Linked DNA regions of Homo sapiens. The protein of the gene in region 1 interacts with the protein of each later gene in a pairwise test. Each region holds a gene or a part of one and is shown in the gene's direction. Other genes may lie near its edges.

The links. Proteins that work in one complex are often made in the same cells at the same time.
Region 2: the proteins of CHAT (region 1) and CHMP7 interact in binary tests that used the Homo sapiens proteins (3 or more experiments, as listed by UniProt).
Region 3: the proteins of CHAT (region 1) and AGGF1 interact in binary tests that used the Homo sapiens proteins (3 or more experiments, as listed by UniProt).
Region 4: the proteins of CHAT (region 1) and DPYS interact in binary tests that used the Homo sapiens proteins (3 or more experiments, as listed by UniProt).

Annotation. Positions count from the first base shown.
Region 1 is NC_000010.11:49,662,537-49,666,036, forward strand, and holds part of CHAT (choline O-acetyltransferase), read left to right. Parts: intron 1-108; coding exon 109-246; intron 247-2,240; coding exon 2,241-2,510; 3' UTR 2,511-3,500. UniProt on the Homo sapiens protein: Catalyzes the reversible synthesis of acetylcholine (ACh) from acetyl CoA and choline at cholinergic synapses.
Region 2 is NC_000008.11:23,253,637-23,257,136, forward strand, and holds part of CHMP7 (charged multivesicular body protein 7), read left to right. Parts: intron 1-1,610; coding exon 1,611-1,796; intron 1,797-2,823; coding exon 2,824-2,957; intron 2,958-3,500. UniProt on the Homo sapiens protein: ESCRT-III-like protein required to recruit the ESCRT-III complex to the nuclear envelope (NE) during late anaphase. Together with SPAST, the ESCRT-III complex promotes NE sealing and mitotic spindle disassembly during late anaphase.
Region 3 is NC_000005.10:77,063,569-77,065,734, forward strand, and holds the end of AGGF1 (angiogenic factor with G patch and FHA domains 1), read left to right. Parts: 3' UTR 1-1,666; downstream 1,667-2,166. UniProt on the Homo sapiens protein: Promotes angiogenesis and the proliferation of endothelial cells. Able to bind to endothelial cells and promote cell proliferation, suggesting that it may act in an autocrine fashion.
Region 4 is NC_000008.11:104,443,056-104,446,555, reverse strand, and holds part of DPYS (dihydropyrimidinase), read left to right. Parts: intron 1-2,118; coding exon 2,119-2,308; intron 2,309-3,500. UniProt on the Homo sapiens protein: Catalyzes the second step of the reductive pyrimidine degradation, the reversible hydrolytic ring opening of dihydropyrimidines. Can catalyze the ring opening of 5,6-dihydrouracil to N-carbamyl-alanine and of 5,6-dihydrothymine to N-carbamyl-amino isobutyrate.

The DNA of each region.
Region 1 (3,500 bases):
AGCCGTGGCTGCTGGAGTCACCAGCAGTCCTGTAGACTACAGAGCAGGGAACAAGGAGGTGCAGGAGGCCCACTTCTCATCTCCTGTTCTTTGTCCCCAACTACACAGGCCATAACAGGGATGGCCATTGACAACCACCTGCTGGCACTGCGGGAGCTGGCCCGGGCCATGTGCAAGGAGCTGCCCGAGATGTTCATGGATGAAACCTACCTGATGAGCAACCGGTTTGTCCTCTCCACTAGCCAGGTACGGCCCCGTGCAGCTATCGCCCAAGAGTAGTGTAGTCAGTAAGCTTTCTAAAGAGCAGTGACAACAAGCCCACTAGCTGGAATCAGGCAAATCCTGCCTCTGCTTTTTCTGAACTATGTGATCTTCAGCAAAATGATCTGAATGTTCATTAGAAGATGGTTTACTGACCAGGCTTGGTGGCTTACAACTATAATCCCAACACCTTGGGAGGCTGAGGCAGGAGGATTGCTCCAGCCCAGGAGTTTGAGACCAGCCTGGGCAACATGGGGAGACCTCATCTCCCTATTTTTAAAAATTAGCTGGGCATGGTGGTGCGTGCCTGAAGTCCCAGCTACTAAAGAGGCTGAAATAAGAGGATTGCTTGAGCTGGGGAGGTGGAGATTGCAGTGAGCCCTGATTGCACCACTGCATTCCAGCCCAGGTGACAGAGTGAGACCCTGTCTCAAAAAAAGAAAAAAGGAAGAAGAAGGTTTCCCATCTCCTAAATGGGAGTAATCAGCAGACCCTACTTAGCCGAGGTGGAGACAGTACAGGAACATACCCATTCTGGTGCCCTAACCATTACACCTTACTACCTTTCAATCTATTGCCGCGGTTTCCACGGGCTCTGATGCCCAGCAGGTCTGCAGTGAAGTCTTGGCTTGGCCAGATACAATTATGTAGGGAGAAAGCCCAGCCCAGGGCCTGGCATGGACAGGGCCCTCTAAATAGGTCACAGATATTATTATAAAGGGCCACGCAACCAACAGCAGAACATTCGTGGCCAGCCCAACATCTAACCAGTGCCTCAGCGTGTCCTGTATGAGAGCCACTGCCACAAAGACAGAATGCAATCCATTAGAGAGAGGTCGTGGTTTAGGAGGGGAAATGCCCCACAGCCATCAATTTACTAAAATGCCACCTCATCTGCGAAAGGCTGGATGGGCAGTACTGGAGTTGATAAGCTGTGTTTGAGGACAGAAGCCCACTCAGTAATGGGATGTTGTCATTATGGCAGTGAGCATGCAGACGTGAATAAACGAGGACAGAACACAGCACCATAAATTTCTCAGGAAATCATCCATGGGCAAAAAGTGCTTTGGAATGGCTTTATGGCCTTCGGCTATTGCACGGCAAATTTATCTGACAATGTGGTGACTCTATTAGCAAGACTAATGGTTTGTTCTGCCCCATTAAAACAGCCAGTGTCACTTCCAAAGGCCTCAGCACACAGCACCAGAAACCTGTAGGTTTAAAACAAACCAGGCCCTGCACCTGCCCAAGAATCCTTTCTATTTTTTTTCCCAAGGACCAGCTAATAAAATTAATCTGGGGTGTGGGAGTTTTGTTGTTTTCCAACTGGAAAGCAGCATTTATGGCTTGAATGCTTTCAGAAACATACTTTCTTGGTTTGTGATCTGGATTACAAAATCTCAGCACTCTGATTCAAAACATACTAGGTGCATAAGTAAAACTGATGGCAATCTTTGAAACACCCAACTCTGGGTAATTGTGCATGGCCAGGCTGCAGGGAGAAATCAGAGAAGCCAGGCAATACTGACAGTAATTAAGGATCTGGGGGAAATCGACACAGAGGATGGGCCAGATTTCCTCCAGTTCATAAATTCCTCCCTCCGGAAAGCATCTAACTATGGGGTGCCACCAGGGGACCATTTAGTAAATTACCTGATTGCCTCCGTGCCTCAAATGGCCCCCAGGTGAAGTGGAGACTCAGCCCAAGACCTAGCACCAGGTCACTCCGGGAGCTTCCAACTCCACAAGTAGAGCAGATTGCACACCAGGGAGTGGGCTTGGGGCCCCTCATCCTCTGATATCATGCAGTTAGATGGGTCTGTTTTTATGACTCTGGCTGTGTCCATCCATGCTAAAGCAATCACTTGATTTGGTTAATTCAGTCAAACCCCCAGGTGGAAAACAGAGAAGCCAAGCCCAGTCGAGGCTGGCGGGCTGCATTCCAGAACAAGCAGCTCCTGACCTGTCCTCTCCTCCAGGTGCCCACAACCACGGAGATGTTCTGCTGCTATGGTCCTGTGGTCCCAAATGGGTATGGTGCCTGCTACAACCCCCAGCCAGAGACCATCCTTTTCTGCATCTCTAGCTTTCACAGCTGCAAAGAGACTTCTTCTAGCAAGTTTGCAAAAGCTGTGGAAGAAAGCCTCATTGACATGAGAGACCTCTGCAGTCTGCTGCCGCCTACTGAGAGCAAGCCATTGGCAACAAAGGAAAAAGCCACGAGGCCCAGCCAGGGACACCAACCTTGACTCCTGCCACTAGGTTTCACCTCCCAAACCCAGCCTCTAGAACAGCCAGACCCTGCAGATCCCCACTCCCGTCCCTTACCCCAGCTTTCCACAGCTCCCTGTCCTCAGGGTCCAACTCACAGACCATACAGAGACATCACACAGAGCCGGAGTGTTAGGAGGAAAGGGTCCCCTCTTCATGCATGGGAATCATCATTTTCAAGGTGGCTTTGGGCCTGCACACTGGGAAATGGGACCTGCCTGGCTCAGAGGCAGCCTGGATGCACTGGGGAACCACACTAAGGACTCCTTCTGTGGTCCTTGGAAGCTTAGTGTTCATGTCTCCTTCCCTAGCAGGACCTAGTATGTCCAGGTGATGCTTCTGCCCAAGGAAAGGATGAGTCACTCTATTACATGCAACGTACCTAATGAGTTAGGAAGGAAGAGGCTAACTCCAGGTCATTACCTCTTTTCTTTTTTGGGGGAGAGGAGGCTGTGTTTTGAGATTCAGAGCATTCTTATCGTGGCATTCCCAGTGTCTCCACTGAGCCGTACAGTCCTACAAGCACCCACTCCTCCCACACACACCACAGAGCCCAAGTCCATTTAAAATATAGTGACTTGGGCCCACAAACACATTTCTGCTTTCGTGCCCAGGGGCAGCCTTCTGTTGAGCTCAGAAAATTGTGTCCAGCTATTCTGAAAGGAAAAAAAAATTTATCTGTGACTGCCCTGGAGTTGCTGCCACTCTCTGCTTAGCAGGCGGCATCAGGGCCAGTCCAAGATGAGTAAACTGCACAGCCCCAAGCAGATGGTGCCTGGTGCCGGTGGGTTTGCAGAGGACCTGGCCCCTTCCCGGGGTCCTGCCATTTGCATTTTTTCTGCATCTTTTCCCCTCTCCTCCCCTCCTACATGCTCCAGTAGGTGAAGAGAGATGGTTACTTTGGGTTTTTCCATTATCTGTTTTGTTTTAAGACAGAGATTTTTAAGAAAACCACCCTGACATTAATT
Region 2 (3,500 bases), on another chromosome or scaffold:
TTACTTTAAACTAGGCTTTTCCTCCTGAATTTTTTCCTATTAATAGCATCACATCCACCAGTCACTCAATCCATAGTGACTTTCCACTAGACTTTTTCTTCCAACCCTATATCCAGTTACCAGTGTTATCTTCTGAATTTTGTTTGTCTCCACCACTCCTCTTTCTATGTTTATTATTCAAATAGCCTGTTGTTCAGACCCACATAATCTCTTGTGTAAATGGTCTCCTTGCCTCTAATCTTAACTCTACAATCCATCGTCTCCCAATTGGCAGTTAGCTTTCTGTTAATCTAGCCATGTCAGTTTCCTTCAGTGACCACCCACCATCTACAGAATAAAGGATCATCATAAGATATTACACTTTCTATAATATAGGATATTACACTTTCTATAATATAGGAGTGCTTCTCCTCTCTCTCCTTTCCCCTCTACATTTGTACACGTGCCGCATTGACCCACCCTTCTATGCTCATGTTCCTCTCTCTTCCCGAGATACCCGTTTCACCTCTTCACCTAGGAACTTGCTCACTCTTCAGAATTCTGCTCAACTTTTTTTTTTTTTCAAGAAATCCTGAATCCCCAGGCAGTCCTTCCCTATATTTTCATAGCATCCCATGGACACCTCAGTCTTTCTTGTTTCTGGTAGTAATTTCCATGTATGAGCGAAATGGTGACATTATTTCTTGGAACTTATATTTCTTACTCTTGTCACTAATCTTATCCCATCTGTTTATTATGTACTTTTCTTTGTTTTTTGTTTTGTTTTGTTCTGTTTGAGACAGAGTTTTGCTCTTGTCGCCCAGGCTGGAGTGCAGTGGCGCGATCTCGGCTCACTGCAACCTCCGCCTCCCAGGTTCAAGTGATTCTCCTGCCTCAACCTCCCAAGTAGCTGGGATTACAGGTGCCCGCCATCACATCCAGCTATTTTTTTTTTTTGTATTTTTAGTAAAGACAGGGTTTTGCCATGTTGGCCAGGCTGGTCTCGAACTCCTGACCTCAGGTGATCCTGACCTCAGGTGATCAGCCTCCCAGAGTGCTGGGATTACAGGCATGAGCTGCCACGCCTGGCCCTTTTCCCTTAAGGCTTTTTACAGAGTCAATAATGTTTGTGTTTGCAGTATAGCCAATTGGCAGGAAAATGGAGAGACTACAATTGGAAGGGAATTAGATGTCATTTCATCCACCCTCTTCAGAGAGTGATACTGAGGACTAGTGAGGCTGTGACTGGCCCAAGGTCACCCAGGCTAGGCTGGAAATCAGGCCTCAGCTCTCGTTCACAGCTGTTCTACCTCACCTCACCTCCTCAGTCTTCCCTTGGGAAACCACAGGCCAGTGAGAGGCAGGAGTGTAAAATCCCCGATGGGCGTGCAGCGCAGAGCTGGCTCCCAGCATCTCATGTGCCTCATTTCATGTGGAGTCACCAAACTTTCCTCCAAGGCTTAAAAACACAGATCCTTCCTCCTTTTTGAAAAGCCGCTACTTTGGGGAGGATGGGGTTGGGATTCCCGGGTGCTTGCCTTGTGTGATCATGGTTTTGAAACTCAGGGTCAGGGTCCCTGCATCCCATGGCAGTGGCCAGGGCCTGTCAGCCAATGTTGCCTTTCCCACAGGAAAAGGCTGAGGAGGTGTATCGTCTGTATCAGAACTCGCCCCTCTCCTCCCACCCCGTGGTGGCCCTGTCAGAGCTCAGCACCCTCTGTGCTAACTCCTGCCCAGATGAGAGGACCTTCTACTTGGTGTTGCTGCAGCTGCAGAAGGAGAAGAGGGTCACAGTCCTCGAGCAGAACGGGGAGAAGGTATGGAGGCTCATCTGTTCATTCACTGACTCAGCAGTGATTGATTAAGTACATAGAGTAGTGAGCCCTTATCTCAGATTTTGGTTTCCAGAGTTTCAGTAACCTGCCGTCAACCACGGTCCAAAAATAATAAGTGGAAAATTCCAAACATTAACAGTTCCATAGATTTCAGTTGTGCACTGTTCTGAGTAGTGTGATGGGACCTCGTAGTATCCCGCCTGTATGCGCATCCCTGCTTTGTCCAGCATCTCCCCGCCTGAGTCACTTAGGAGTCGTCTCAGTGATCAGATTGACTGTCACAGCATTGCAGTGGTTGTGTTCAAGCCACCCTTATTGTACTTTTTTTTTTTTTTTTTGAGATGGAGTCTTGCTCTGTCGCCCAGCAATGGCGCAATCTGAGCTCACTGCAGCCTCCGCCTCCCGGGTTCAAGCGATTCTTCTGCCTCAGCCTCCCAAGTAGCTGGAATTACAGGCATGCGCCACGGCCCCTGGCTAATTTTTGTATTTTTAGTAGAGAAGGGGTTTCACCAGTTAGCCAGGCTGTCTTGAACTCCTGACCTCAAGTGATCTGCCTGCCTCGGCCTCCCAAAGTGCTAGGATTACAGGTGTAAACCACCGTGCCTGGCCTATTATACTTAATAATGGCCCCAAAGCACAAGAGCAGTGGTGCTGGCAGTCCAGATTTACCAAAGAGAAGCGGTCAAGTGCTTCCTTTAAGTGAAAAGGTAAAAGTTCTGGACCAAATAAGGAAGACCAAATATCATTTGCTGAGTTTGCTAGGATCTACAGTAAGAATGAATCTTCTATAGGAAAAATTGTGAAGAAGGAAAAATGTTTACATAGCTATATGTATAGGGTTCAGTATTCTCTGAGGGTTCAGACCTCCACAGGGGATTCCATTCACTGGAACATATCCCCCATGGATAAGGGGGGCCTGCTGTTCTCACATGCCCACCACCAGCGCTCCTGGTTGGGAATTTCTCAGCCTTTGTGGTAGCAGCAGTAGTAATTTCTCCCTGTCCCTCAGATTGTGAAGTTTGCCCGAGGGCCACGTGCCAAGGTCTCTCCAGTCAATGACGTAGATGTTGGGGTGTACCAGCTGATGCAGAGTGAACAGCTTCTCTCACGCAAAGTGGAGTCCTTATCCCAGGAAGCAGAGAGGTAACTTTTAACCCTGAACTGAGCCTCCTCCCCACTGTTGCTGGCCCCCAGAGCCAGCAAAATGTTAGTATATGTGGGCTTTTAAAAAATAGGTGGGTTTTTTTTTTTTTTAGCTAATTACAAAAGTACTCACTGCTCAATGCAGAAATCATGGAAAGCACAGAATATCACAAAAGAGAAAAAAAAATGAGGCCTCTTTTTTTTTTTTTTTTTTTTTGAGACGGAGTCTCGCTCTGTCACCCGGGCTGGAGTGCAGTGGTGCGATCTCGGCTCACTGCAAGCTCCGCCTCCTGGGTTCACGCCATTTTCCTGCGCCAGCCTCCCGAGTAGCTGGTACTACAGCCACCCGCCACCACGCCTGGCGAATTTTTTATATTTCTAGTAGAGATGGGGTTTCACTGTGTTAGCCAGGATGGTCTGAATCTCCTGACCTCGTGATCCGCCCGCCTCTGCCTCCCAAAGTGCTGGGATTACAGGCGTGAGCCACCGTGCCCGGCCTTTTTTTTTTTTTTTTTCCTCAATTGAGACAGGGTCTTGCACTGT
Region 3 (2,166 bases), on another chromosome or scaffold:
AATGACTTAAGTGTACATCTGTTCTTGTCTCCATATATTCATGTAAGATGCACAACAAAAGAAACATCAGAAGTTTATAAAAATAAATCTGACTATATGCATCCTCATTTATTCCCTTTAGAACCTAGGTAAAAAATGTTGCGAAAACATGGGTAGTGGCGCATACATTTTGTTATCCTTGAAATAGCCTAAGTAATGTTATTGAAGAACTAATGAACAGGTAACATATTGTAGAAAATTAGTCTTTCATTGTTTTCTTCTGTGAAGAATCTGTTGCTATGTACTGTATATTCAGCATTTATATTTGGTTTGTTTCATAGCTAATGAGGTATTTAGATATGAACAACTGAATACATATTGAAATAGTGTGCTGGCTTTTGTAGTTTTGATAAAGACCATTGCAGGCAATGGAATTGTGCCAGAGAAATCTGATTTCTAGTACAAAAGGAATACTTAGCCAGGGCCTCAAGCTCAAGATACTTATTGAAAACATCCTCAATTGCAATAAAAACATTATAACATGAAAAAGAGTGATTTTTTGAACCGGTGATTTAAATGTATTGATCTGCTTTGAATTTTCAAGCAGCCAGAATTTTCTAGTTTAAATTGGCAGAGTTATAACAAAGGAGAGCCTCAAATATTAGACAATTGCAGTGCGGCTTTCTGGGCACAGGTGTCACTGCTCTGCCACCTATCACTATTCTTTTTCTGTTCAGTTTTTCTCTCAGGTGTTTGCTGGGAAATTAACACTGGAACTGACCCTTTTCTGGCAGTGAATGTAAGCTCTAGCTCCCCCATCTACTATAAAGAAATGTCTTCGAGATGTAGAAATAAGGAATATTCTGAAAATAAAAATTATACAGTAGTAAAGATAATTCAGAAAGAAAAAGCTACCTGTTAGAATTTCCAGTCTAAATGGCACAGGGTAGTTACGGAGAAAAGGGGATGGAGAAGGAGAAACTATGACTAAAGATGAGAGGTATGAACGAGTTGTCAGGTTCCTATGGGCTTAAGCTAGGACAATCAGGCCCTAAACTCCAAATTTGGATAAAATATCTCTTTGCATTCTTCTTGGCCACCTGCATAGTCTGACACATACGTATGTACAGTTAGACTTGCAGGCTGCAGGAGTGCCCTGCATTGTTTTCTTTTAATTAGAAATAAAAAGTATTAGTCTAAATGTGGTTCTGGTGCTGGTGCCCTGTATATATGTAACAATATAGGACCCCTCCAAATAGGTTTTGCTTCTGGTGAATCTTGGTCATTGGGTTAGTATATGACTGTCTATAATATTTTCCATTTGTATTATTATATTGGGGAAAACATTTTTTATCATTTTCTATTAAGAAAATGGAAAACTTAAATATGGTGTTAAAAATGGAAATATATGTGATATTTGCATTATTAAACCCCTTTGCAGATCTAAAGTCTCAGGGTTCCACTATTAGTGGTTAAAGTACTGAATAATGTCTGGGTCTATTTCCATCTGTAAAATAAGAATATTTGTCTCACGTGTCTGTCATGAATAGCAAATGAGAAAATGTATATAAAAGCACTTTGTAAATTGTAAAAGTAGTACAGATGTGAGCTTCTATTTGTTTAGAAGCATAAATGTGAATTATATACAGTTTGAATTTTGCATAAATTTTTTGTGTCTAATTTTAAATATTTGTTTAATCACACTACACATTTTCTGAGTAGCGTTTAAGTATGTATTTTAAGTGGAGCTGCAAGTTCTGAATTTTAAGAAATCTAACATCTAATATTTTTGCCAGAACATAAGCTGGCAAAGTTGAGAACAGAAGAAACTTTCAACATTAGAGTAAAATAGAAATTTTTTCCAGTATTAAATAGAGGAAGCACCCTTATCCTCAAAAAGAGGAACTTTTTTCTGCTTTTGAAACAAGTGTTACTTCTGATGTGTCATTTTTATCCTGCATTTATAGAACGTAATGGTTTACGCAAATCAAAAACCTTCTGACTTTCCATAGAATATTTTTAATTTTTTATGATTTTTATTTATTTATTTTTTTGAGACAGAATCTTGCTCTGTTGCCCAGACTAGAATGCAGTGGTGCAATCTCAGCTCACTGCAACCTCAACCTCCTGGGTTCAAGCGATTTTCGTGCCTCAGCCTCCCAAGTAGCTGGATTACAGGTGCATGCC
Region 4 (3,500 bases), on another chromosome or scaffold:
CCACTCTAAGTCTGGACTGCATGCTCTTTTTGTAAGGAAGAAATAACATTTTGAAGAAGAAAGATAACAGGTCCAATACCATTTAGTGGGTTGGATTGGGGAGCAAGTGAAGAGGATTATTCCGTAATAAAAGTAAAACTGATTACATAGTATGACAGTGAGTCACTTCAACAAGGATCCACAGTATTTTTATTTTGTTTGTCTGAATCAATATTGTCTTAAATATAGATATTGCTTTTCAAAGAATGTGATTAGAAATAACTTCATATCTTTTTCACCTTTTCTTTTTAAATTTTTTTATTTTTGTGGGGTACATAGTAGTGTATATATTTATGAGGTGCATGAGATATTTTGATACAAGCTTGCAATGCATAAGAATCACATCATGGAAAATTGGGTATCCATCCCCTCAAGCATTTACCCTTTGTGTTACAAACAATCCAATTATATTATTTTAGTTATTTTAAATGGTGCAATTATTTTTTATTTGTTGTTATTATTATTATTTTTTGAGATGGAGTCCCGCTCTGTTGCCTAGGCTGGAGTGCAGTGGTGCGATCTCAGCTCACTGCCAGCTCCACCTCCCGGGTTCACACCATTCTCCTGCCTCAGCCTCCCGAGTAGCTGGGACTACAGGTGCCCGCCACCACGCCCGGCTAATTGTTTGTATTTTTAGTAGAGACAGGGTTTCCCCGTGTTAGCCAGGATGGTCTCGATCTCCTGACCTTGTGATCTGCCCACCTCAGCCTCCCAAAGTGCTCGGATTACAGGCGTGAGCCACCGCGCCCGGCCAAAAGGTGCAATTATTGACTATAGTGCCCCTGTTGTGCTATCAAGTACTAGATCTTATTCATTCTTTCTTTTTTTTTGTTTTACACACAAACCATCCCTACCTTCCCCCCTCTCCCCACCGCCATCCCTCCCCACTAACCTTCCCAGCCTCTAGTAACCATCCTTCTATTCTGTATCTCCATGAGTTTAATTGTTTTAATTTTTAGATCCCACAAATAAGTGAGAACATGCAATGTTTGTCTTTCTGTGTCTGGCTTATTTCATTTAGCATAATGACCTCCAGTTCCATCCATGTTGTTGCAAATGACTGGATCTCATTCTTTTTTATGGCAGAATAGTACTCCCTTGTGTATATGTAACACATTTTCTTTATCTATTCATCTGCTGATGGGCACTTAGGTTGCTTCCAGATCTTGGCTGTAGTGAACAGTGCAGCAACAAATATGGGAATGCAGGTATATCTCTTTGATATACTGATTTTCCTTTCTTTTGCATATATGTCCAGCAGTGGGGTTGCTGGATCATATGGTAGCTCTGTTTTTAGTCTTTTGAAGAACTTCCAAACTATTCTCCAGAGCAGTTTTATTAATTTACCTTCCCACCAACAGCGTACATAGGTTCCCTTTTCTCCACATCCTTACCAGCAATTGTTATTGCCTGTCTTTTTAATATAAGCCATTTTAACTGGGGTGAGATGATATCTCAGTGTAGTTTTGATGTGCATTTCTCTGATGATCAGTGATGTTGAGCACCTTTTCATATGCCTGTTTGCCATTTGTATGTCTTCTTTGAAGAAATCTCTATTCAAATCTTTTGCCCATTTTTAAATCAGATTATTAACTTTTTTTCCTGTAGAGTTGTTTTAGTTTTGTATATATTCTGCTTCTTAATCCCCTGTCAGATGGGTAGTTTGCAAATATTTTTTCCCATTTTGTGGGTTGTTTCTTCACTTTGTTGATTGTTTCCTCTGCTATGCAGAAGCTTTTTAACTTGATGTCATCCCATTTGTCCATTTTTGCTTTGGTTGCTTGTGCTTGCTTTTTCCCCTTTTCAATAAAAAAAAGTGATGGTAAAATATGCATATGGAAAATTAACTTATATGATTAGAATATCAAAATTATTTTTACCAAATATACATGTTATATATATATGTGTTATAGATATATTTACACAAATATGTTCATATACACACACACACAGACACACACACACCCCTATACCTAACAGATCAAAAGCCTGGCATTGCATTTAATTTATGATAAAATAATGATATCTGTCATTAGTAAACCTTCCTTGCACATATACACATTCCTGCTGTCTTTTTAGGGAGCAAAGAAGATGTTGGCTCTGGGGATAACAGGCCCTGAGGGCCACGAGCTGTGCCGCCCAGAGGCAGTGGAGGCAGAGGCCACGCTGAGAGCCATCACCATAGCCAGCGCTGTGAACTGTCCTCTCTACATTGTGCATGTGATGAGCAAGTCTGCAGCTAAGGTGATAGCGGATGCAAGGAGAGATGGTAATTCTCGAATGTAACCTCACTTAGAACTCAGTGTTAGCTGAAGAGAAAAGTCCACGTCTGTAGCCTCTGCTTCAGTTTAGGAGAAAGTGCATGTGGATTTCCACTACTTTTCTTCCTCCCTTTTTATTAGCCTCCTGGTTTCATTTATCCTTATGTGTGTCTGTTTTCCACCACTTTTGTTCATCTTCATCCTTGCCTCTCTACCTTCATGTTTTATTTGTTATTTCTTCTCCATCCTTGCGACCCCAGGACATTTCCTTTAGCCACATGCCCCCACACTCAATGCCACTAGCAGCCACTTTTAAATATGATAGCTAAATGCAAAGCTCTCCGGTTTTTGTTTGTTTGTTTTGTGATGGAGTCTCACTTTGTCGCCCAGGCTGGAGTGCAATGGTGTGATCTCAGCTCACTGCAACCTCCGCCTTCTGGGTTCAAGTGATTCTCCTGCCTCAGCCTCCTGAGTAGCTGGAATTACAGGTGAGCACCACCACACCCAGCTAAATTTTATATTTTTAGTAGAGACGGGGTTTCACCATGTTGGCCAGGCTAGTCTCAAACTCCTGACCTCTAATCATCCACCCGCCTCAGCCTTCCAAAGTGCTGGGATTACAGGTGTGAGCCACCATGCCTAGCCCTCTTTCGTTAATTTTGAAGAAGCTTCCCTATCTCTTAGGCAGCTCCACTACCCTTCCCACTACCTGAATCAGGGCAGTGCAAGGCACCTAGTACATGCTCAATAAATTTCTTTTGAATTGAATTGATTCATCTGACAGCCACTTGGATGTTGGAGCAATTGAAGCAATTATCCAAATGGTATTTTTATGATGGTTATTTTAAGATTTTAAAATCTAAGTTATTTTTACCCCAAACTGCCTAATTGCCTCAGTTCTCTGGTTCAGCCTAGTATGTTCAGCCTAGTATGTAAATACTCATCTTAAAGGAAAGAGAAAATCTCCTATTTTTGATAAGCACTGGGCAAAGAAATGATTTCACTCTTTTGCCAATACTGGTAGAGAAAGGAGGAAAAATAAATAAGGTGCATTTTACTCAAAGACTTTAGTCCCATGGTAGCTTCTGTCATCTCAATTTTAGGAATGCAGATAATCAGAGACAGTGTTATAATTCAACCTTGCTGTTTTTGTTTGTTTTTTATTAAAACAGGCTGTATTTTTGTAAGATTCATTATAAA